Homo sapiens: one gene and its partners. The protein of the gene in region 1 purifies or fractionates together with the protein of each later gene. This does not show direct contact. Each region holds a gene or a part of one and is shown in the gene's direction. Other genes may lie near its edges. The genes, in order: GGPS1, METTL14, NMI, VCPKMT, NCR3LG1 and GTF2H2C.

Region 1 (3,593 bases):
TTAATCCCCAAGAAATTAATAGCTGTCGCATAAAAATATTCCTAGTTCTTGATTGAATTTAGTCCTCATGCAAGATATTATTTTATATTGAGGTTGCTAAATATTTATTAGTTGTGAAAATTAACACACCTGAGACTTTCATAATCTGTTAATTAAACTGAGTAAGTTTTGAATAGTTCAAATAAGTGAAATTTTCAATTTTTTTATTAGATTATTATTGAAGTGACAGAAATGTTGCATAATGCCAGTTTACTCATCGATGATATTGAAGACAACTCAAAACTCCGACGTGGCTTTCCAGTGGCCCACAGCATCTATGGAATCCCATCTGTCATCAATTCTGCCAATTACGTGTATTTCCTTGGCTTGGAGAAAGTCTTAACCCTTGATCACCCAGATGCAGTGAAGCTTTTTACCCGCCAGCTTTTGGAACTCCATCAGGGACAAGGCCTAGATATTTACTGGAGGGATAATTACACTTGTCCCACTGAAGAAGAATATAAAGCTATGGTGCTGCAGAAAACAGGTGGACTGTTTGGATTAGCAGTAGGTCTCATGCAGTTGTTCTCTGATTACAAAGAAGATTTAAAACCGCTACTTAATACACTTGGGCTCTTTTTCCAAATTAGGGATGATTATGCTAATCTACACTCCAAAGAATATAGTGAAAACAAAAGTTTTTGTGAAGATCTGACAGAGGGAAAGTTCTCATTTCCTACTATTCATGCTATTTGGTCAAGGCCTGAAAGCACCCAGGTGCAGAATATCTTGCGCCAGAGAACAGAAAACATAGATATAAAAAAATACTGTGTACATTATCTTGAGGATGTAGGTTCTTTTGAATACACTCGTAATACCCTTAAAGAGCTTGAAGCTAAAGCCTATAAACAGATTGATGCACGTGGTGGGAACCCTGAGCTAGTAGCCTTAGTAAAACACTTAAGTAAGATGTTCAAAGAAGAAAATGAATAATGTTAAGCCATTCTTGATTGGACCTCATAGCTTATTTTAGTTAATCTTTTTTTTGTCTTTTAGCCTTACCACCTTTTAAAAAATTTGTTATTCTCCAGAAACAGTAAATAGGTGAGTAGGGGTGGTGCAAGTGAATTCGTTTTCATTTAGAAGCCCCTCTGTACAGATAATCAAAATTCAAAGTTGAAAGAATCAAAAGCAGCCACAGTTATGTAGGTCTGATTTGAATGTCATAATTGCAGTGACAGGACATTGCCACCAACTCTATCCTACTACCATCAATGTTGTGTTTATTCCGTCAATAAAAAAGACTTGCTTCCAGGAATTTTTATCCATACACTTTCTAACTGTACTATCTGGGCAGTTCCAAGCCAGTTTCTATTAGCTAGCTGGACCAAAGACCACAAATCTCTTTTTTTCCTAAACGCTGCTGTAAGGAATATCTCACTTTTCCCCCCGGAAACACCCTCACTGAAGTCTTCTATGAAAAGGCTGATAATGGGCTGGGCGCGGTGGCTCACGCCTGTAATCCCAGCACTTTGGGAGGCCGAGGCGGGCAGATCACGAGGTCAGGAGATCGAGACCATCCTGACACGGTGAAACCCTGTCTCTACTAAAAATACAAAAAATTAGCTGGGCGTGGTGGTGGGCGCCTGTAGTCCCAGCTACTCGGGAGGCTGAGGCAGGAGAATGGTGTGAACCCAGGAGGCGGAGCTTGCAGTGAGCCGAGATAGTGCCTCTGCACTCCAGCCTGGGTGACAGAGCGAGACTCCGTCTCAAAAAAAAGGGCTGATAATGATAAACAGTGAGCACTCCGGTCCTTTTTCTTAGGTTTTCCTTTTTTCCTTCCTCTCCACCCCACAAGTTTTGCTTTTTAACCAAGGTGTCTCTGCTTGATGAAATTCACATGCTAGTCTAAATCTTTTTTTCTCCCTTGTAACATTTATGTGCCCCAAACTGGTTAGTATATGGGTACAGCATTCCCTTTCCAATTGGGAAGCGGAAAAAGAGAGTATGGGATATTTTAGAAGGGAGCCTTTGAACCTTATTATATTTCCCCATCATTGATAGTGACAATCTTAAAAGGGTTGTTTTCTTACCTTAAGTACAAAAGCATGGAAAAATGCGCTTTTCCTTCCCGCCCACATCACCACCCCGACTTGAAGACAGTAGGTGCTTGAATGGAAAGTGAGTAGGCATCTTTAATCGCCCTGATTAAAGGAAAGTGTTAGCCTGAGAGGGCCTGACTGAAAAGTAACCAAAGGCTTAATATCAAACACTAATTAGCTTTTTAGTGCCTTAACCCTGACCTGGTTACCAGTTTTCTGTAGTTTCTACACCCAAGCCACTGAAGTCATCTGTGGCCCAAGAGGTAGGACAAAAAAAAAAAAAAAAAAAGCTGATTTCAATATTTGATTTGTTGACATCCCAAAATGAAAGTTTTATGTTTCCCTTAGAAACATGTTTTGCTTGGTTCTATAGTATGTTACTTAGGATCTATTTACCATATATTTGTATGAGAAATCCTCACCCAAGCATTCAACCTAAATCTTTGAAAAGTTGGGTGCTGTCTTTAGTAACTTTTAAAATAGTTTAAATCTCCCATTTTAATAGTGATAAGGAAACCTGTTAAAATCATGGCTATTGATGTTATAGTATGGAAAGTTGAACTTTATGAACCCATACTTTTAAAAAGCATTTTTAAAAATCTAACACTGACTATAGAAACAAATTAAAATGTCTACCTTTAAGTATAAAAATTGCTTAAGTAGATTTGTTCCTTGCCTATCAAATTAATTTTGGCCTGGTGTTCTTCATTATTCATTTGTTAATTTTATCTTGCCTTTGTCAATAACAGAAATGTTTGTCATTGAATTGGGAATTTTTTTTTTTTTTTTTGAGACGGAGTTTCACTCTTGTTGCCCAGGCTGGAGTGCAATGGCGTGATCTCAGCTCACTGCAACCTCCACCTCCCGGGTTCAAGCGATTCTCCTGCCTCAGCCTCCTAAGTAGCTGGGATTACAGATGCCTGCCATGTTGCCTGGCTAATTTTTTTTTTTTTTTTTTTTTTAAGTAGAGATGGGGTTTCACCATGTTGGCCAGGCTGGTGTTGAACTTCTGACCTCAGGTGATCCAGCTGCCTCGGCCTCCCAAAGTACTGGGATTACAGGCATGAGCCACCGCACCCAGCCAAATTGGGGACTTTTAACAGTCATTTTACCTGTAGAATAATCAAAACTCTTCACTTGATCTGTAGTCATAGCTATTAACACAGAAAAATGAATGCCAGTTATGTTGCCATAAACCACCTTCTGAACTTGGCAAGATCTTAAAACCATCAACTGTTCTCTGTTCACTCTGTGAACTTCTTTCTACTTTACTTCCTTCTCTACCTCACCTGTACTCTATAGTCACTCACTTCAATGACACTTAAAGAGCATTCACTCTCAGATCACTTTTCTCCTTTCCTTGCCCATTCTTATCTTGCCAACTCCCAGTCCTGGATAAATCCAAACATCCACGTTCTTTGTGCATCCGTGTTGCTCAGTGCTGCTGGGGAACATTTTCACAACTGCTGTTGGAACCATTGTGAGTTTACACATTCCAGCCTCTGCAACGCC
Region 2 (3,861 bases), on another chromosome or scaffold:
TCAGAAGATGAGCAGGATTAGAGAGGTTAAATAATACTGAACAAGTTGATTTCTAGGTATATGTGAGACATTCAAATGGAAGAGGTCATAGGAATAAAATATGAAACTCTAAGGACAGGCAGATCTGGTTTCAAAATACATATTTTAGAGGATTATCACATAAAATCCATGTAAATAGATGAGTTTATCCTGGGATCGTGTCTCAGGATAAAAATGTGGACTGACAGTAAAGCCGGGAAAACATTTACATTTAAAGACTACATATAAAAGAAATTTAAAAACGAGTTGTTCAGTGATGAATGAAGAGAACCAGGAGAGTATGAATGTAATGGAAACCAAGGGAACAGTGAGTTTCAAGGAGAGTGTAATCAGGACCGTTCTGCATTTCTAGAAAAGATGTGGGGCAAGGAAAGGACTGAAACTGGAAGACGTGTTTCTTAGGAAACGGATTAGAATCTTTGCATGTCCCTTTCTGAGTTAATGGTAGTTACTACTCTTAATAATATCTATTTTTCCAAGATTTACCTCTAATTCTTCCTCTTCCTTGAAACTTTTCCTATTAGCTTTAATACTCCTAGCACTTTTATTTATATTTGTATGGCTCCTATAATGTAAAAGTTTTTCCCCTTCCCTGTTTAAAGTGTTATCTGTGTTTATTGTTGAAAAATCAGAAAAGTGCACAGAATGTGGTATTTCTAAGACTTAAGATTAGAGACTTAATGCTCTTGATATTTCTTGCAGAGAAGTTTTCCAGATAGGTATAAATTTACATTCCTTTCAGTAGTGTTTAAGAATGTCTAGTTAGCCATATCCTCATTAAAGTTGAATATTAATATTAAAAACCATTTTTTATCAGTTTGCTCAAAAGAAAAAATTTAAACAATGAATCTGATTATGTTCTTTATTAATAATTAGGCAGAATTTTGTTTTCTCTAGCCAATCCGTGAGGTTTCAGCAGTGAAGGTACAAGAACTTCAATTATATGTGATAAACTAATACAGTTTTTAAAATAAAGAAATTCTATTTTATATGCAAATTCTTGATTTCAGTTTAATTTCACTGTACTTCAACTCTGGCTGGCATACTGAAAAATTTTGTCTGGCCCCAGAGCCCTAAGTTCTTTAACTTTTATGAGATACCGTCCTGAAGGAAGTGCCAGTAGTTAATGTAATAAACAAAATGTAAATAAGAAAAATGTTTGGGTTTCACAGGTATTCTTTTTCATGTTAGAGAGTCGGTAGTGGTCATTGTGTTTTACTTAAGAACACAAGCATTAAAGTACCAACACTTAACTTTTAGAATTAGTGTCAAAAGAGAATAATTTTTTTTTTTTTGGCATTTGAGACTCAAAGTAGTAATCGTAGCAAAATATGTATATTGATTTATTGAGAAGTTCTTCTGTAGACACTGGATATCACAGTCCTCCCGAAACATTTATTGTTATATTTTAATTTTAATTTTGTCCCTAACATTGGGCTTAGTTAAGTGCTTCATTCTTTTTCAGTAAATGATAAAAGATTGCTGGAGAATCTGTCTCAAGCTCCATCTTAAAAGATTGCATAAGTCTATAGCTATTGTTTCCTATAAGCTCTTTCCATATAACAGCAAGTGTATATATGTATATATGTGCACAGGTGTGTATGTTGTTTGTATATAAAGTAACAAAACAATAGAACGAGTAATTTTAAGGATAACATTTATTTTCTGTTAGTTCCTAATGGAAACTAATACACTTAAAGAACACATCTATCCTAATAAATCTTAATTGTTGTTCTTTTGGATTTAGGATGAATGGGAAACAAAATACTTTTATGCAATATCGTTTTGATTTCTTACAGATTATGAAGTTAGAAATTGATGAGATTGCAGCACCTCGATCATTTATTTTTCTCTGGTGTGGTTCTGGGGAGGGGTTGGACCTTGGAAGAGTGGTAAGATGGTGCTTTTATAAAGTGGATTTTTAAATTAATAAGAAAAAAATGTAACAGTATGTTGCATAGGATGTTTGAAAGTGGATGTTATTTTGTCCTTTGTTTCTTAAATAATTCTAAAATAGTGAGAAAAAAAAAATGTCCAGAAAAGAACGTAAGAAAGGCAATACTTGTAAGTTAGTTTACCAGCACTAGGGAGGAATGTGTAGCTCTTTCAAAAGACACTTCATTACAAGTACAGGAAGAGAACAGCTTAAAGATTTGAAACTCCAAATTATACCTCAAAAATGAGCTGCTTGGTATCATTTACAATTCTTTATGAGTAGCTAAAAAGTGTTCTATGAGTAGCTAAAAGTATTCAGGAGCATTGGCTCCTGAAATCCAAATGGAAGTCAAATAAAATTGGAAAAGTAACACAGCATATGGAAGACATGAATGAATGAGAAAGAAGTTATAATACCTGAACTTATTTTAAGTATCTGATATTTAATTGTATTTCACAGCTTTTTTATTTTTATTTTTTTATTGGAGTTTTTTTTTGTTTTTTTTTGTTTTTTTGAGACAAGGTACCAACTCTGTTGCCCAGGCTGGCGTGCAGTGGCACAATTGTGGCTTACTGTAGCCTCGACCTCCTGGACTCAACTCAAGCAGTTTTCCCACATCAGCCTCCTAATAGCTGGGACCACAGGCACACCACCACCCCTGGCTAATTTTTTTAGTATTTGTAGAGATGAGGTCTTGTTATGTTGCCCAGGCTGGCCCCAAACTCCTGGGCTCAAGGGATCCTCCCACCTCAGCCTCCCAAAGTGTTAGGATTACAGGCATGAGCCACCACCCCTGGCCCTGATTGGCCTTCACCAAAAGGAACAAAATAATATATATGCTGTTTTAAACAAGAATAACAACAGTATTATGACTAGGTATCAGGAGTCTTAATTTTGCTCTCAATTCAGCTGCTATGCTGTAACAGTAAGACTTTGGGCAAAAAGATACTCACTCTTGAGGGTCTCAATTTTGTCACATTTTATTGGTTGACACTTCGTTTTTATGACATATTATTTATTATACACCAAACTATCTCATTTAATGATTCCAATTTGGGGAGGTATCCATTTGACAATTGAAAAATTTAAGTAGGATTATATGAGATAATAAGTATGATTATATGGAAATAAGATTGTGCCCAAATTCTGAAATTCTACAATTACTGTATATTCTTTATATAAATAGTAAGGCTGTTGGGTAACATCATTGCTTCCATCATTTATTAACTCCAAGGTAAACTATAACTGTGTTTCAGTTGGATATCTCCATTTTTTTGGTGTTGGCTCTTCAAGATGCTATAGAAAAGTAAGAGCGAAACATACATGTTTTTATAGGTATATTGGTGTTTACTTTGTTTTAACTTTAATATCTGACTTTGATCTTTCCTTTCATTCCCCAAATTAGATTGAAAATGATTAGAAGGTTTTTATCTTTTTTTTTTTTTTTTTTTGAGGCAGAGCCTTGCTCTGTCGCCCACGCTGGAGTGCAGTGGTGCGATCTTGGCTCCCTGCAAAACTCTGCTTCCCAGTTGAAGCAGTTCTCCTGCTTCAGCCTCCTGAGTAGCCATCCAGGAGGTTTTTATCTTATTTACTTAATGTAGCAGTTTATCATACTGGTGAGAGTTCGGCGAAAAATGATTTAAAAAATAATTCAGCATGAGAAATACTCATGAGATTTTGATAAATTAGTGGATTAGGGCATGTAGAATTTAGGTCATAGTGATGTTAATGACACCTGGTGCAAAATAAATATTTAGTAACAGGAACAGATATTGATCTTGATTTTGGAGATTTTAAAATAAAATTCTGCTGGGCGCAGTGGCTCATGTCTGTCATCCCAGCACTTTGAGAGACAGAGGCGGGCAGATCACTTGAGGCCAGGAGTT
Region 3 (3,861 bases), on another chromosome or scaffold:
TCATCTTATGAGAAGAATCTAGAACTTGAGAACTTCTACATTGTGATTTTGCTGATATACTTTGACATTAATATATTCTACTTTGGGACCAAGAGCAGTGGCTCATCCTGATAATACCAGAACTTTGTCTGGGAGTCCGATGCAGGAGGATTGCTTGAGTCCAGGAGTTCCAGAGCAGCCTGGGTAACAAAGTGAGAGCTCGTCTCTACAAAAAGTTAAAAAAATTAGCTAGGCGTGGTGGCATGCACCTGTAATCATAGCTATTCTGGAAGCTGAGGTGGGAGGATCTCTTGAGCCCAGGAGTTTGAGGTTACAGTGAGCTATGATCACATCACTGCATTCCAGCTTCAGTGACAGAATGAGATCTGGTCCTCCTTCCCCCTGACCCCCCAAATTATATATTCTACTTTGGTAGCAAGACCATTATCACTTGGAATCACCGCCCGCCAAATTTTTAAAATTAGACCCTTTAATATTAAAGAAAATTAAAAATATTCAGGATAATTTGTTCTTAAACCAAAAGCATAACAATTCTTAAAATATTGGAAATTAATACTTCCTTCCTGAATTATTTTTCAGTTGCTCAAAATGTGGTAAGCATGAGTAAACATCATGTACAGATAAAAGATGTAAATCTGGAGGTTACGGCCAAGCCAGTTCCATTAAATTCAGGAGTCAGATTCCAGGTAACAGGATGATTAAAATTTTTTGGATTTCTGTTCATCACAAGCACTTCTCTCATCCATATTTCTGAACATCAAATCATTTTCCAGGTTTATGTAGAAGTTTCTAAAATGAAAATCAATGTTACTGAAATTCCTGACACATTGCGTGAAGATCAAATGAGAGACAAACTAGAGCTGAGCTTTTCAAAGTCCCGAAATGGAGGCGGAGAGGTGGACCGCGTGGACTATGACAGACAGTCCGGGAGTGCAGTCATCACGTTTGTGGAGATTGGAGGTACTCAAGGGTGTAGAAGGTTAACAGACACTCTGCCATTTCAGTCATGTTCTGTTGTTTCTGAAAGTATTCCTATTCTACTTCTTTTATTTGGAATGTATTAGCATGATAATTGGGGATTTTAAAAAACCTTATAAAATAGTAGAGTGTAGGAAATTATTTCCAGGGACAGTACTAGGAAAGATAATATTGCTACAAATAGGCAGGGTGCAGTGGCTCACCCCTGTAATCCCAGCACTTTGGGAGGCGGAGGCAGGCGGATCACTTGAGGTCAGGAGTTCAAGACCAGCCTGTCCAACATGGCGAAACCCCATCTCTACTAAAAATACAAAAATTAGCCAGGCATGGTGGCAAGTGCCTGTAATCCCAGCTACTTGGGAGGCTGAGGCAGGGAGAATCACTTGAACCCAGGAGGTGGAGGTTGCAGTGAGCTGAGATCACCAGGCATAGTGGTGCGTGCCTGTGGTCCCAGCTACTCAGGAGGCTGAGGTGGGAGGATTACTTGAGGCCAGGAGGTTGAGGCTGCAGTGACCTGTGATTGCACCACTGCACTACAGCCTGGGAGACAGAGTGAGACCCTGTCTCAAAAAACAAAATTAAAAAAAAAAATTGATGGATTAGATTTTTTCATGACAAAGTAATACATGCTTTTTTAAGGAAGGTGAAATAATACAGAAGAGCAAACATTTAGTAAAAATGAGACATTTCGGCCGGGCCCGGTGGCTCATGCCTGTAATCCCAGCACTTTGGGAGGCCGAGGCAGGCAGATCATGAGGTGAGGAGTTCGAGACCAGCCTGACTAACATGGTGAAACCCCGTCTCTACTAAAAATACAAAAAAATTAGCCAGGTGTGGTGGCGCATGCCTGTAATCCCAGCTACTCGGGGGGCTCAGGCAGGAGAATAGCTTGAACCCAGGAGGTGGAGGTTGCAGTGAGCCGAGACTACGCCACTGCACTCCAGCTTGGGCGACAGAGTGAGACTCCGTCTCAAAAAAAAACAAAAAGAGACATTTCCTCAAACTTCCCTTTCTCCTACTATTTAGTTAGTTATGGTTATTTGGGTGTCTTTCCAGGCTTTTCTCTGGGCACATTAAAACATGTCAATATCCTTTTTTTTTTTTTTTTTTTTTTTTTTTTTGTGAGACAGAGTCTTGCTCTGTCGCCCGGGCTGGAGTGCAGTGGCACTATCTCAGCTCACTGCAACCTCCGCTTCCCGGGTTCAAGCAATTCTCCCACCTCAGCCTCCCGAGTAGCTGGAATTACAAGTGCATGCCACCATGCCTGACTAATTTTTGTATTTTTGGTAGAGACGGGGTTTCACCATGTTGGTCAGGTTGGTCTCGAACTCCTGACTTCAAGTGATACGCCCGCCTTGGCTTCCCAAAGTGCTGGGATTACAAGCATGAGCCGCCGCTCCTGGCCCAATATGCATTTTTGACCTGAGCTTTTGGATGATGTTTAGGACATCCTGGTGGGATGTGTCAGGGAGAGCTATAAAAGGAAGGGGTCTTGAGGGCTACAGTAATATGTTGTCTTGGAAATGAACAATAACTTGGTGGAAACTTCCATAGTCAAGCATCCAGATTTTAATTTGCCAAATTCATATATTCATTTAGCCTGTTTGGTGTTAGTTTGTCTATATCTTGGATTTTAAAAAATCTGGCCAGGCGCAGTGGCTCATGCCTATAATCCCAGCACTTTGGGAGGCGGAGGCGGGTGGATCACTTGAGGCCAGGAGTTCAAGACCAGCCTGGCCAACATCGCGAGACCCCTTCTCCACCAAAAATACAAAAATTAGCGGATGTGCTGGCTCACGCCTATAGTCCCAACTACTTGGGAGGCTGAGGCAGGAGAATTGCTTGAACCTGGGGGGTGGAGGTTGCAGGGAGCTGAGATTGCATCACTGCACTCCAGCCTGGGTGACAGAGTGAGACTCGGTCTCAAAAAAACCGAAATAAAATAAATAAAATAAAATAAACTAGAATGCAATTTATAACTCTACTGTGAGAGATAATACTAGCTTTGGAACCTGTGTCCTTGGGCCATCTGGGGATGTTCTCCTAGAGGTTACATCTAGCCAGATGGGAAAAATACTTCTGCAGGTTATAGGTTATCCAGCAGGTAACTACTGAAGGATGTGAAGGTATTCTGGAGATAAATATGCCAGATACTTCATAAACTGTGTCTTACTGACTCATCACAATAATCTACAGGGTAGGTACTGTAATTATGCTTATTTTACAGAAAAAGAAACTGAGGCTTTAAGAAGTCAAGCAACATATCCAAGGCCACATAGCTCATAAGTAGCAGAGCTAGGACTGAAGCTGGTCTATTTGACTCAGGACCTGTACTCTTTTTTTTTTTTTTAACTGTGATAAAATATATATAACATAAAATTTACCATTTTAACAATTTTTAAATGTACAATTCAAGGGTACTAAGTACATTCACAATGTTGTACAACCATCACCACTATCCATCTCTAGAACTTTTTAATCACCCCAAACTGAAACTCTGTACCCATTTAACAATAATTCTCCATTACCTCTTCTTCCAGCCCCTGGTAACCATCATTCTACTTTCTGTCTCTATGAATTTGCCTATTCTAGGTACCTCATTCAAGTGGAATTATACAATATTTGTCCTTTTCCTGTCTGTCTTATTTTGGTTAGCATAATGTTATCAGGGTCCATCCATGTTGTGGTATGTATCAGAATTTCATCCTTTTTAAAGGCTGAATAATATTCTCTGTGTGTGTGTGTATTTTATATATCCATTTTGTTGATCTGTTCATCTGTTGGTGGATGCTTGGGTTGCTTCCACCTTTTGCCTATTGTGAAAAATACTGCTCTGAGCATTAACGAGCAAGTATCTGTCCGAGTCCCTGCTTTCAGTTGTTT
Region 4 (3,079 bases), on another chromosome or scaffold:
ACCTAGATACCTGTCTATTTTTAGGGTCTTTTTTTTTGTTTTTTAAACTTTTTGTCTGAAATAGTTAGAAAAGACTTACAGGAAGTTGCAAAATATAGTATATAGGGTTTTATGTATCTGTCACTCTTCTTCCCCTAGTGATCACCCAAACCCTTATATGGGCACAAATCTATCACATTGTGAGTGACTCCTTTTGAGGGTACATCTATATAGGCCTGCAGTTTTGTCTGCTGGAAGGACTACTTTGGTTTAATGAGAAAGCAGGTATATGACTGCCTCAGGTAACAAATACTAAAATGTTTGTTTATTTTCATGTTTTTCTTGAATATGAAAAATGTTCATGAACTTTTGAAATGATGCATAATGAAAATTTCGTACTGTTAAACAGCTTTTATTGGGGTAAAGCATATGTAAAATGCATATGTATCAGTCAAGTGCTGAGCTTAATTTTTCATATGTATACACCCAAGTAACTACTTACCAACATAAAGATAGAGGACATTTTCAGGATCTTGGAAGGTTTGCACACTGCCCTTTCCCAGGCAATACTCAAAAGGTAACCACTGACCAGGCGCGGTGGCTCACGCCTGTAATCCCAGCACTTTGGGAGGCCGAGATGGGCAGATCATGAGGTCAGGAGTTCGAGACCAGCCTGGTCAACATGGTGAAACCCTTTCTTTACTAAAAATACAAAAATTAGCTGGGTGTGGTGTCGTTTGCCTGTAATCCCAGCTACTCAGGAGGCTGAGGCAGGAGAATCACTTGAACCCAGGGAGGTGGAGGTTGCAGTGAGCCAAGATCGCACCACTGCACTCCAGCCTGGGTGACAGAGTGAGACTCTCAAAAAAAAAGTAACCAGCATTCTGACTTCTGTCACCCACAGGTCAGTTCATATTATTGAATTTGAAGTATGTCTCTTTTAAATTTATAGCTCCTTCAGCTAGATTTTGACTTTGAAAAAATTCCTTTGGAAAAACATGATGAAGAGTATCGAAGTGAAGATATTCATATTATATACATCAGAAAGAAAAAATCGGTAAATAACATTCTCAGTTCTTCATTCTCCAAGGAGGTTTCATCAGCTGGACACTATTTCAGGGCATATGTGTGGTATGGGCGTTGATTTTGATGTGGAGAAACAGCTCTAATGATTCACTGGACTCAGGCAGTAACTTCATTGTCAAGATAATTTAATCTATCTTGCCTTGGGTTTTTGCTCTAAAGCCAGGCTTTTTTTTTTTTTTTTTTTTTTTTTCTCGTATTTTTTAAGTAGAGACACGTTTCACCGTGTTGCCTAGACTGGTGTCGAACTCCTGGGCTCAAGTGATCCGCCCACTTCGGCCTCCCAAAGTTCTGAGATTACAGGCATCAGCCACCATACCTGGCCAGGCTTCGCTTTTAAAGGCCTTTTCCAGCTTCTCCATAGGCGTAAATTGTATAGCTCTATAATTGGGTATTACCTCAGACAAGTTATTAGCTATTTATAAGTTTCTTTTATCTCTGTGAGATTTTAAAATGCCTGCTCTTACCTTTGTGAACTTTTCCTTATTAAAAATTGTTTACAGGAAATGAAATACAACAAGGCAGATGAGTCCATAAAAGATAAATGCACTCAATTAAGTAGAATTTATGTATTTTCCCGCTTCTTGGTGCATGTTTTACCCTGTATAACAATCACATTTTATGCAGGTTGCCTCAGTGACACCTAGGGTTTGAGCCTGTAGAAAGAGGGAAGAATTGTACTTCATCCTTTTTTTTTTTTGAAATAGGGTCTCACTCTGTCATCCAGGCTGGAGTACAGTGGTGCAATCTCGGCTTGCTGCAGCCTCTGCCTTGCAGGCTCAAGAAGTGATCCTCCCACCTCAGCCTCCTGAGTACCTGGGACCATAGGCATGCACCACCATGCCCAGCTAATTTTTGTATTTTTTTTGTTGTTGTTGAGACAGGGTTTTGCCATGTTGTCCAGGCTGATTTTGCACTCCTGGACTCCAGTGACCTGCCCACCTCGGCCTCCCAAATTGTTGGGATTACAGGTGTGAGCTGCTGCGCCTGGCCTTTCATCTATTTTTGTATTTCCAGCACCTTTGGTATATGTGACTAGTGTAAGGCAGGGAGATGATTAGTTTTATGAATTAAGGATGCTAGATTCAATAAGCCCACACTTTTTCTATCATCTTTGCTTTGATTATGTTTGTGGTAAAGTTTTCTGATTATATGAATTCTAGTCAAAAGCAAATAAAACTTAGGGAACAGAAGTAGGTGTTAGGACTAAATCTAAGTAAAAAGGCAGCAGCGGGATTATTCAGATTAACATTTATGTGGCATGGTGCCACAGATACAAAAAAAACTGTTTTGTGCTTTAAGGGATCTAGTGTTAACTGAAGCTGTTGTGCAGTTTTAAAAGTAGAATTTTTTGGAGGCAGAAAGATTTTGTGTTTCCTAAATATAGAGGCTTTTTTTTTTTTTTCGGCCAAAAAAAAAAACTCTTATTTTTTAGTTGATGTAACTCACATACCATAAAATTCACGCTTTTAAGGTGTACAATTTGGTGGTTTTTAGTATATTCACATAGTTGTGTAAATTACCACTTTCTAATTTTTAATGATTTCACCCCCCAGAGAAGCCTCTTACCCATTAGCAGTCACTCCCTGTTACCCCCGTCCCCAGCTGCTGGCAGCCACTAATCTCTATGGATTTGCCTATTCTGCACATGTCATATGTAACAAGTCACATACTGTGTGGCCTCTTGTGACTGTCTTCTTTCACTCAGCACAGTATTCTCGAGCCTTATCTACATTGTAGCACACATTAGCACTTAACTCCTTTTTGTGGCTGAATAATATTCCTTTATGTGGCTGTACCACACCTTATCCATCCATTGATGAGATGAATAATGCTGCTATGGACGTTCATCTACAAATTTTTGTGTGAACATGTTTTCAGACCTCTTGAGTATATACCTAGAGGAGAACTGCAAGGTTATATGGGAACTCTGTTTAACTTTTTGAAGACTTGCCAAACTGTGTTCCTAATCTACCATACCATTATACGTTCTCACTAGCAGTGTATAAGGGTTCCA
Region 5 (3,500 bases), on another chromosome or scaffold:
CAGTTGTGTGGTTTCTCTGGCCCTTGCCAGTAGGTTTCCTGCTAATGTTTTCCTTCTCTCTCTGCAGAAACTGAGAAGACAGATAATTTTTCCATTCATTGGTGGCCTATTTCATTCATTGGTGTTGGACTGGTTTTATTAATTGTTTTGATTCCTTGGAAAAAGGTAAGGGGCTCCAAAGCAAAGTTCAGCCCTGTGTCTTGGGCTAGTAAAAAGCTTTTAGAGCAGCTGCTGCCAACCTTACAAGCCTCAAGGGACAGGCCTGCTGGAAAGGACTTTGTCAGTCCCTCTTCACCATCAGGTGTTGGGAATGTTGGCTGTGTTCCAATCCAGTTTCCTATCACAGAGGACCTAGCTGTCACATACCATCTGACCTCTGTATGGTGGTTTGTGACTCTGGGGTGATGTGTTGTAAAGCCTCCCTCTCTTTCTCCATACTAAACAAGTATTATATCTCTGTGAATGAACCAGACTTTAGTGTTCAGACCAGGCCCTGAACTATGTGTGGACTGCTTGTTTTTCTCACACATTTAGAAACTATGGCTTAGAGAGGGGAATTCCTCATATTTTATCTGATCAATAACTGACCACCAGATCTCACTAGTTTGACTAAGAATTTCTAACCCTCACTAGGTATTTCTAAACTAAAACATGTTTCTAAACATTTTTATCCCTGACTATGGCCCAAATAGTAAATAAAACAGCTCAAGCTTTAGAGGCCCAAGAGACCTATGTAAATGTGTTGGTTAAAATAGTTTTAGATAATAAAAGGGCCCTCAATTATTTATGGGCCTGTCAAGGCAAAATCTGCACAACAGCCAGTACATCTCATTATAAATAATTTAGGAGAAGTGGAATAATCAGTCAATTAAGAAAAATGGCCCTTTATCTAAAGTTGGCCATTTAGATTCACGGGACTTATTCCTGTTGGATCTAGGCCATGAGAAAACTGGATAAAAAGTGGTTTTCAAATGTTTCTTGTGGTATTTGTGACTGTTGTCATATTTCTTGCCTTTCTCTGGTTCTGATATTCAGGTGCTATTGAGAGAGGAGGAAGGAAGAAACTAGTCAGGCAGGCAGTTAGGGTGGGCCCTCAGTCAAATTCCTTCAAACAAAAGAACAGCCTGAAAAATCAAACTGCAGATAAGGGAACTTGTACAGGGGGGCTTGCCTAAAACATGCCCACAGCCACATACATTAAAACAAGGCTACACAGGAGACTTGCCTAGACATGCTCACAATAGAAAATTCCATCCCCTGACACATGCACAGTAAGGGGAACAAAGCCACATGGAGTAACTCAAGCTAAGGGCTTGCATGCACACTACGAGGATGGGGTGGAGCTACCAGAAATGTGTGCCTTATGCCTTTGTATTCAGCTGTGAAATGGCAACCCTCTTTTGGGCCCCCTCTCTGCAGTGGAGTGCTTTCTTCTTTTGCTTATTAAACTTTCACTTCAACTTCATCTTTGGGGTCCGCGCTCCTTAATTTTCTTGGTCATGAGACAAAGAACTTCAGGTGATACCTTGGGCAATGAGAGACTGCTACATTGTGGTGCATTGACGAGACTAACATTTTGGTGCATTGGCCAGGAAACATTGGAAGGGTGAGTAGGAGCGGACCTCCAAACTCTTTACTTTCATTTCAGAGGCTTCTTGTCCTCAGATTTTTTCCTGAAGACTGAACAAAACACTGGGCCAGTTAAAAGCTTTTAGAGCGGCTGCCAACCTTATGAGACTTAAGATACAGGCTTGCTGGAGAGGACTTTGTCAGTCCCCCTTCACCCTCAGGTGTTGGGAATGTTGGCTCTGTTCTAATCCAGTTTCCTTTCACAGAGGACTTAGCTGTCACATGGGCTAGAAGGAGGTCCTGGGGCAACTGAAGGTTTCTGTTTGAGGCTACTCCTCAGTGTTACCTGAAGGTCCCTGGACTAACTCCAGCCCCCGACAGCCCGTCAGAATGTTGGCACCAGGACTTCCAGACTTTTCTATTGCATTTTCTTCCTTGCTTTTCGCAGCTACTATGTCTCCTATTCCTTCTTTGTATGCAATGTTGTGGGTGTCTTTATAGCCTGGGGAGATAATCCTGTTAAGCAAAGTCAGCAAGTGCCTTAGTAACGAGGAATGTAACTCAAATAATTGTTGTTTTTGTGATTTCCTTGAGACAGGGGGACTTCAAGATTTCAGCCTAAATTTTCACTTAGGGCCTTTTTGTCCCCCAGTGATAGACATTCATGGCACTCTATAGGGGGATGTTTCACCCCAAGTGAATACCCTTTTCTCCATCAGGTTGTTTTTCCTTCATGTAAGAGCTCAGCATTGCCCAATGAATTTAAGCATTCCCTCTATGAGACAAACTAGTTTTTTTTCTACTGGACAGCATATTATGGGGACAGCCTATTAAGCCCCAAACCTCCCTTTCTGACCTCTGCTTGGAAAGAATTTGTAGTCAGAGTTTTTTCCTAACATTTCAAACCCTATAGTGCTACCTAGTGGGATGGGATTTTTCTCTGTGAGAAGCCTTGTCAGCCCTTTGCCCAAAACCTCTAGTTCCCTGATTCCTTTCTCTCTTATGTCCCTCTTTCAGTGATCAGGCCCCATGCCCTATTTGTAAGCATAAAAACTCCTCTTTCAACAGCCAGGAAGAAGCTACCCTGGGAAGACATATTTTAGCCTCAGTGTTATCCCCATTGGAGGGAGAACAGCCATTCAATTTTTACATTCTTTTGAGGCATCTGTTCTGTACACAGCTACACTGGCATCTAAGTGAGAAAGGGATCTTGTGTTTAGAAATCAATCAGTCTCATTCTCTAGGAATTCATAACTTTGCCAGGGTGGTAGTAAGAGGATGTAAGGATAGAGTTAAGATGTTCCCTTCCTTAAAGGGTCTTGCCCCAATCCAACTACTGCACAATCTCTCCCATGGTTCTAGGGAATCTCAGGAGCCTTATGGGCCAAGTAGGTCTAGGAAACCAGCAGGGCAGAGAGCTAGGACCTTGTGCAGGTGAGCACAAGCTAGCTCCTCCGGATTCATGGGTGAAGGTCATGCTTTGATCCATGGGCAGCACCTATAATGGTCACCAGGAACCTGAGGAAATGGGAGGGAAGAGGAGAAGGGGGACGCCCCTTCCATTTTTCTCTCTGCTGTCGATCACTCCAGAAGGACAAAGGAGACTAAGGGATGCCTTTTCTCTCCTCTTTTTCTAGATATGTAACAAATCATCTTCAGCCTATACTCCTCTCAAGTGCATTCTGAAACACTGGAACTCCTTTGACACTCAGACTCTGAAGAAAGAGCACCTCATATTCTTTTGCACTCGGGCATGGCCGTCTTACCAGCTGCAGGATGGGGAGGCTTGGCCTCCTGAGGGAAGTGTTAATATTAATACTATTCAACAACTAGATGTTTTCTGCAGACAGGAGGGCAAATGGTCCGAGGTTCCTTATGTGCAAGCCTTCTTTGCCTTGCGAGACAACCCAGATCTTTGTCAGTGTTGTAGA
Region 6 (4,444 bases), on another chromosome or scaffold:
TCTTTCCACTGCTATGCAAGATACCTTCTGTTTATATTTTTGAGGGAGACAACAGAGATGGGAAAAATTTTTAACAATAAAATAAAGGCAATGGAGGGGATGAGTATGCTGATGGGGAAGGAAAGAGGCCCTAGCTTCTGCAGTTCCTTTGTGTTATTCCTAACCCTTTTCTCATCTGGGGGTGCACTGCCTCTCCATTTCTCAAGTATGGGAAATGCCAGTAATTCCACTTGTGTTAATTGGCAGTCATACAACTTGTCCAAAACTGAATTGATCTTACCCACCCCGCCAACATTTTAATAATTGCAACCCCAACCTTTCAGTTGCTCAGCTAAAGACTATGGAGGTATCCTTGATTCTTTTCTCATAACACACATCCAGTGTATTGGTAAGATTTAGAATTCAGTCACTTCTCACCAGCTGCTGGTCCAAGCCATCACAATTCCCCCAAAGTTCTTAACAGTGCTCACAGCCTCTCCTCCCCACCTTACCCTTCTGATTGCAGCTTCCACCACTCATCCCCTGCTCACTCCTGCAGTCGTCAAAGACCCCAATGCACTTCTACCTCAGGGCCTTTGCACTTGCAGCTCTCTTTGTCTGAAGAGCTTTTCCCCTAGGTATCAGCAGGGTTAACACCCTTCCTCATTCAGGTCATGGCTTAACTGTCTTCCCAGCGAGGACTCCTCTGGCCACCCTATTTTATTTTTTGAGATGAAGTCTCTGTCACCCAGGCTGGAGTGCAAGGTTGGCTCACTGCAACCTGTGCCTCCTGGATTCAAGCGATTCTCCTGCCTCAGCCTCCCGAGTAGCTGGGATTACAGGCGCCTGCCAGCACGCCCGGCTAATGTTTTTGTATTTTTAGTAGAGACGGAATTCACTATGTTGGCCAGGCTGGTCTCGAAGTCCTGCCCTCCGATGATCCACCCCCGCTCGGCCTCCCAAATCACCATGCCTGGGATTACAGGCGTGAACCATCGCACCCGGCCTGGCCACCCTATTTTAAACTGCAAACTTCTCCCCTTCAGTGCTTAGTTTTTCTCCACAGCATTATCACCATTTCATATAGTATATGTTTTTCTTCATACTGACTCCCCTTGGAGAAGGAAAACTCCACGAGAGCAAGGATTTTTGTCAGTTTTTCATTGTTATTTCCTCAGTGCTTAGACATGCATCAGGCTCAAAGTAGATGCTCAATGTTTGTTGAATGAACAGCAAGAGCAATGGAGGAGTCCTGAAATACACAGCAAGAAGCAAGGATAATTCTGGCTTTACTTCTGTGGCCAGGGTCCTTCATCCCAACCTTTTAGAAGTAGAAAGACAAGATCGAGCTCCTCAGAACCCAGGTCGATGGCTGCAGAGCCTTCGACCTTCCGAGAGCGAATGGCGATCACTCTTTCCGGTTCTCTGCGAATTCCAGCTGGAACACCGTCCCTTTCCGCGCCCCAACTCAGCGGAGGCCATGCCCTGCACCTGAGCGCCCCGCTCCGGCAGCTGCACTCTGCAGCATCCGGAACGTTTCGGCGTGGCCGCAGGGCGCGGCGGAATGACTTCCGGGGCGCCCCTAAAGCGGCGGAGAGGAGTGTCGGGCTGAGTTTCCGGCTGAGAGTCCTTCTAGCGGCGCCGGTGAGTCCGCGTGTGGAAGTCTGTGAGGCGCAGAGGTGGGGCAGGCCGTCTGACTAGCTAGGCGGCTGGGAGCGTTTTCGTGGCGGGGAACGGAGGTTGAATTGCCCTGCCTGGGCTCATAGGGAAGGAGGATGTGAAGGAGCTTGTGAAGGCAGAGGAAGGTAACTTTCGTCTGGGGAGCCGCAGAGTAGGGAGGGAAGCTGCAGGCCGTCTCTCCCTAAGTAAAAGCGCGACTTTTAGAAATGATGGTTCAGGGTTCGAGTTTGTGACCCGCTTGAGAAAGTGACCAACCTCTGAGCCTGAATCCCATACCTGAAAAACAAGGACAGTAATCACCCTTGCCAGTTTCACATAGCTTGGTAAGGTGTGAAGAAAAGCTTCTTAAATTGGGATGTTTGGTGCTCTCATTTGTTGGCAGATAGCATTCCGAGCTCATGTAACGGGAATCACACCAGTAGGCTTATGCTGAGGAACGTGGATTGTTTGGGGTTGGATTCCAGGAAACAGATCACTTAAAAAAATTTTTTTTTCTTCGAGACGGAGTCTCGCCCTGTCGCCAGGCTGGAGTGCAGCGGCGCGATCTCGGCTCACTGCAACCTCCACCTCCCGGGTTCAAGCGATTCTCCTTCCTCAGCCTCCCGAGTAGCTGGAACTACAGGCGCGTGCCACCACGCCCAGCTAATTTTTGTATTTTCAGTAGAGACGGGGTTTCACCATGTTGGCTAGGATGGTCTTGATTTCTTGACCTCGTGATCCTCCCGCCTCGGCCTCCCACAGTGCTGGGATTACAGGTGTGAGCCACCCACCTGGCCTCGGTGATATTTTTAAGAAGAAAATGGACTGTTGGGAAGTGACAGGCCATTGGAGATCTTTACAAAGTCCATCTTCAGGATGCATGAATCCTTTAAACAGCATGCATGTTTACAATCAGACTTCCCATTGAACGTCTGCAGTTTTAGGGACCTTAATACCTCCTGTCCAGTCGGATTTCCCATTGCAGGCAGCTCTAATTAAGAAGTCCTTTTAGCCGGGCGTGGTGACTCATGCCTGTAATCCCAACACTTTGGAGGACCGAGGTGGGCGGACCAGTTGTGGTCAGGAATTCGAGACCAGGCCTGGCCAACAGGCTGGTGAAACCCCGTCTCTACTAAAAATAAAAAGGTTAGCTGTGGTGGCGTGTGCCTTAATCTCAGCTATTCGGGAGACAGAAGAGACAGTAGAATCGCTTGAACCCTGGAGGCGGAGGTTGCAGTGAGCCGAGATTGCGTCACTGCACTCCAAGCTTGGGCGACAGAGCAAGACTCTTGTCTCAGAAAAAAAAGAAAAAAAAGAATTCCTTTGATATGGTCAGCCAAAAGTCTCTCAGTTGCTATTTACTTTTATATTTATAATATTTATTATATATTTGTAATTATTTTATTTATTTTGAGATAGGGTCTCACTCTGTCACCCAGTCTGGAGTGCAGTAGTGAACATAGTAGCCTCGACTCTCCTGGGCTCAAGCCATCCTCCCACTTTTGCTTCCCAAGTAGCTGGGACTCAAGTACTCGCCACCTCGCCCAGCTAATTTTTTGATGTTTTGTAGAGACAAGGTTATTGCCCAGGCTGATCTGAGCGCCTGAACTCAAGCAATCCTTTTGCCTTGGCCTCTCAAAGTGCTGGGATTACAGGTTTGAGCCACTGTGCCCTGCGAAGAATTTGAGTTTAAAAACGTTGAGAACGTTATGCGAGTTTTTCATTTTTAAAGTTCACAATACGTAACAGAAAACAGGGAGGAGCAAAATGTTCAGTTGAGGCTGGGTGTGGTGACTCACGCCTGTAATCCCAGCACTTTGGGAGGCCGAGGTGAGTGGGTCACCTGAGGTCAGGAGTTCGAGACCAGCCTGGCCACCATGGCAAAACCCCATTTCTACTAAAAACACAAAAGTTAGCCAGGTGTGGTGGTGGGCTCTTGTAATCCCAGCTACTCGGGAGGCTGAGGCAGGAGGATCACTTGAACTCGGAGGCGGAGGTTGCAGTGAGCCGAGATCGCGCCATTGCACTCCAGCCTGGGTGGTGAGTGAAACTCCGCCTTAAAACAAAAAAAGAAACAAAAATATTCTGTTTACAGGCAGATCACTTGAGGTCAGGAGTTTGAGATCAGCCTGGCAAGTCAGGCGAAACCCTGGCTCTACAAAAATATAAAACATGGCAAAACCCTGACTGTACTAAAAATACAAAAATTAGCTGGGCATGGTGGCACGCGCCTGCAATCCCAGCTCCTTGGGAGGCTGAGACAGGAGAATCACTTGAACCCGGGAGGTGGAGGTTGCAGTGAGCCACGAGGTGGTGGAGTTGGGAGGGAGATTGCATTGGGGAGGATGGAGGTGTGATGAGGACATTTATTTGTGCATGAATGAATGAATGACAGAGTCTCGCTCTCTCACCCAGGCTGGAGTGCAGTGGCACAACCTTGGCTCGCTCCAGTGTCTACCTCCCAGGTTCAAGTGATTCTCCTGCCTCAGCCTCCCGAGTAGCTGGGATTACAGGTGTGCACCACTAGGCCCTGCTGATTTTTGTATTTCTAGTGGAGACGGCATTTCACTATGTTGGCCAGCCTGGTCTTGAACTCCTGACCTGAAATGATCTGCTGGCCTCGGCCTCCCAAAGTGCTGGGATTACAGGATGAGCCACCGTGCCCGTTTCTCTCTCTCTCTTTCTTTCCTTTCTTTTCTTTCTTTTTTGAGGCAGGGTCTCATTCTGTTGCCCAGGCTGGAGTGCAGTGACCTGATCTCGGCTCACTGCAGCCTCCGTGCCTCCTGGGTTCAAGCAGTCCTCTTGT

What was found.
Region 2: the proteins of GGPS1 (region 1) and METTL14 fractionate together in Homo sapiens (co-fractionation; one large-scale study listed by BioGRID). This does not show direct contact.
Region 3: the proteins of GGPS1 (region 1) and NMI fractionate together in Homo sapiens (co-fractionation; one large-scale study listed by BioGRID). This does not show direct contact.
Region 4: the proteins of GGPS1 (region 1) and VCPKMT fractionate together in Homo sapiens (co-fractionation; one large-scale study listed by BioGRID). This does not show direct contact.
Region 5: the proteins of GGPS1 (region 1) and NCR3LG1 purify together in Homo sapiens (affinity purification with mass spectrometry; one large-scale study listed by BioGRID and IntAct). This does not show direct contact.
Region 6: the proteins of GGPS1 (region 1) and GTF2H2C fractionate together in Homo sapiens (co-fractionation; one large-scale study listed by BioGRID). This does not show direct contact.

The regions. Positions count from the first base shown.
Region 1 is NC_000001.11:235,341,801-235,345,393, forward strand, and holds the end of GGPS1 (geranylgeranyl pyrophosphate synthase), read left to right. Parts: intron 1-210; coding exon 211-972; 3' UTR 973-2,732; downstream 2,733-3,593. UniProt on the Homo sapiens protein: Catalyzes the trans-addition of the three molecules of IPP onto DMAPP to form geranylgeranyl pyrophosphate, an important precursor of carotenoids and geranylated proteins.
Region 2 is NC_000004.12:118,698,712-118,702,572, forward strand, and holds part of METTL14 (N(6)-adenosine-methyltransferase non-catalytic subunit METTL14), read left to right. Parts: intron 1-1,838; coding exon 1,839-1,931; intron 1,932-3,861. UniProt on the Homo sapiens protein: The METTL3-METTL14 heterodimer forms a N6-methyltransferase complex that methylates adenosine residues at the N(6) position of some mRNAs and regulates the circadian clock, differentiation of embryonic stem cells and cortical neurogenesis.
Region 3 is NC_000002.12:151,272,583-151,276,443, reverse strand, and holds part of NMI (N-myc-interactor), read left to right. Parts: intron 1-579; coding exon 580-686; intron 687-773; coding exon 774-960; intron 961-3,861. UniProt on the Homo sapiens protein: Acts as a signaling pathway regulator involved in innate immune system response.
Region 4 is NC_000014.9:50,110,572-50,113,650, reverse strand, and holds part of VCPKMT (protein N-lysine methyltransferase METTL21D), read left to right. Parts: intron 1-138; coding exon of another isoform or gene 139-141; exon of another isoform or gene 142-931; coding exon 932-1,036; exon of another isoform or gene 1,037-1,565; coding exon of another isoform or gene 1,566-1,709; exon of another isoform or gene 1,710-3,079. UniProt on the Homo sapiens protein: Protein N-lysine methyltransferase that specifically trimethylates 'Lys-315' of VCP/p97; this modification may decrease VCP ATPase activity.
Region 5 is NC_000011.10:17,368,800-17,372,299, forward strand, and holds part of NCR3LG1 (natural cytotoxicity triggering receptor 3 ligand 1 precursor), read left to right. Parts: intron 1-67; coding exon 68-165; intron 166-3,206; coding exon 3,207-3,500. UniProt on the Homo sapiens protein: Triggers NCR3-dependent natural killer cell activation.
Region 6 is NC_000005.10:69,558,620-69,563,063, forward strand, and holds the start of GTF2H2C (general transcription factor IIH subunit 2-like protein), read left to right. Parts: upstream 1-1,571; 5' UTR 1,572-1,784; exon of another isoform or gene 1,785-1,982; intron 1,983-4,053; 5' UTR 4,054-4,151; intron 4,152-4,444. UniProt on the Homo sapiens protein: Component of the core-TFIIH basal transcription factor involved in nucleotide excision repair (NER) of DNA and, when complexed to CAK, in RNA transcription by RNA polymerase II.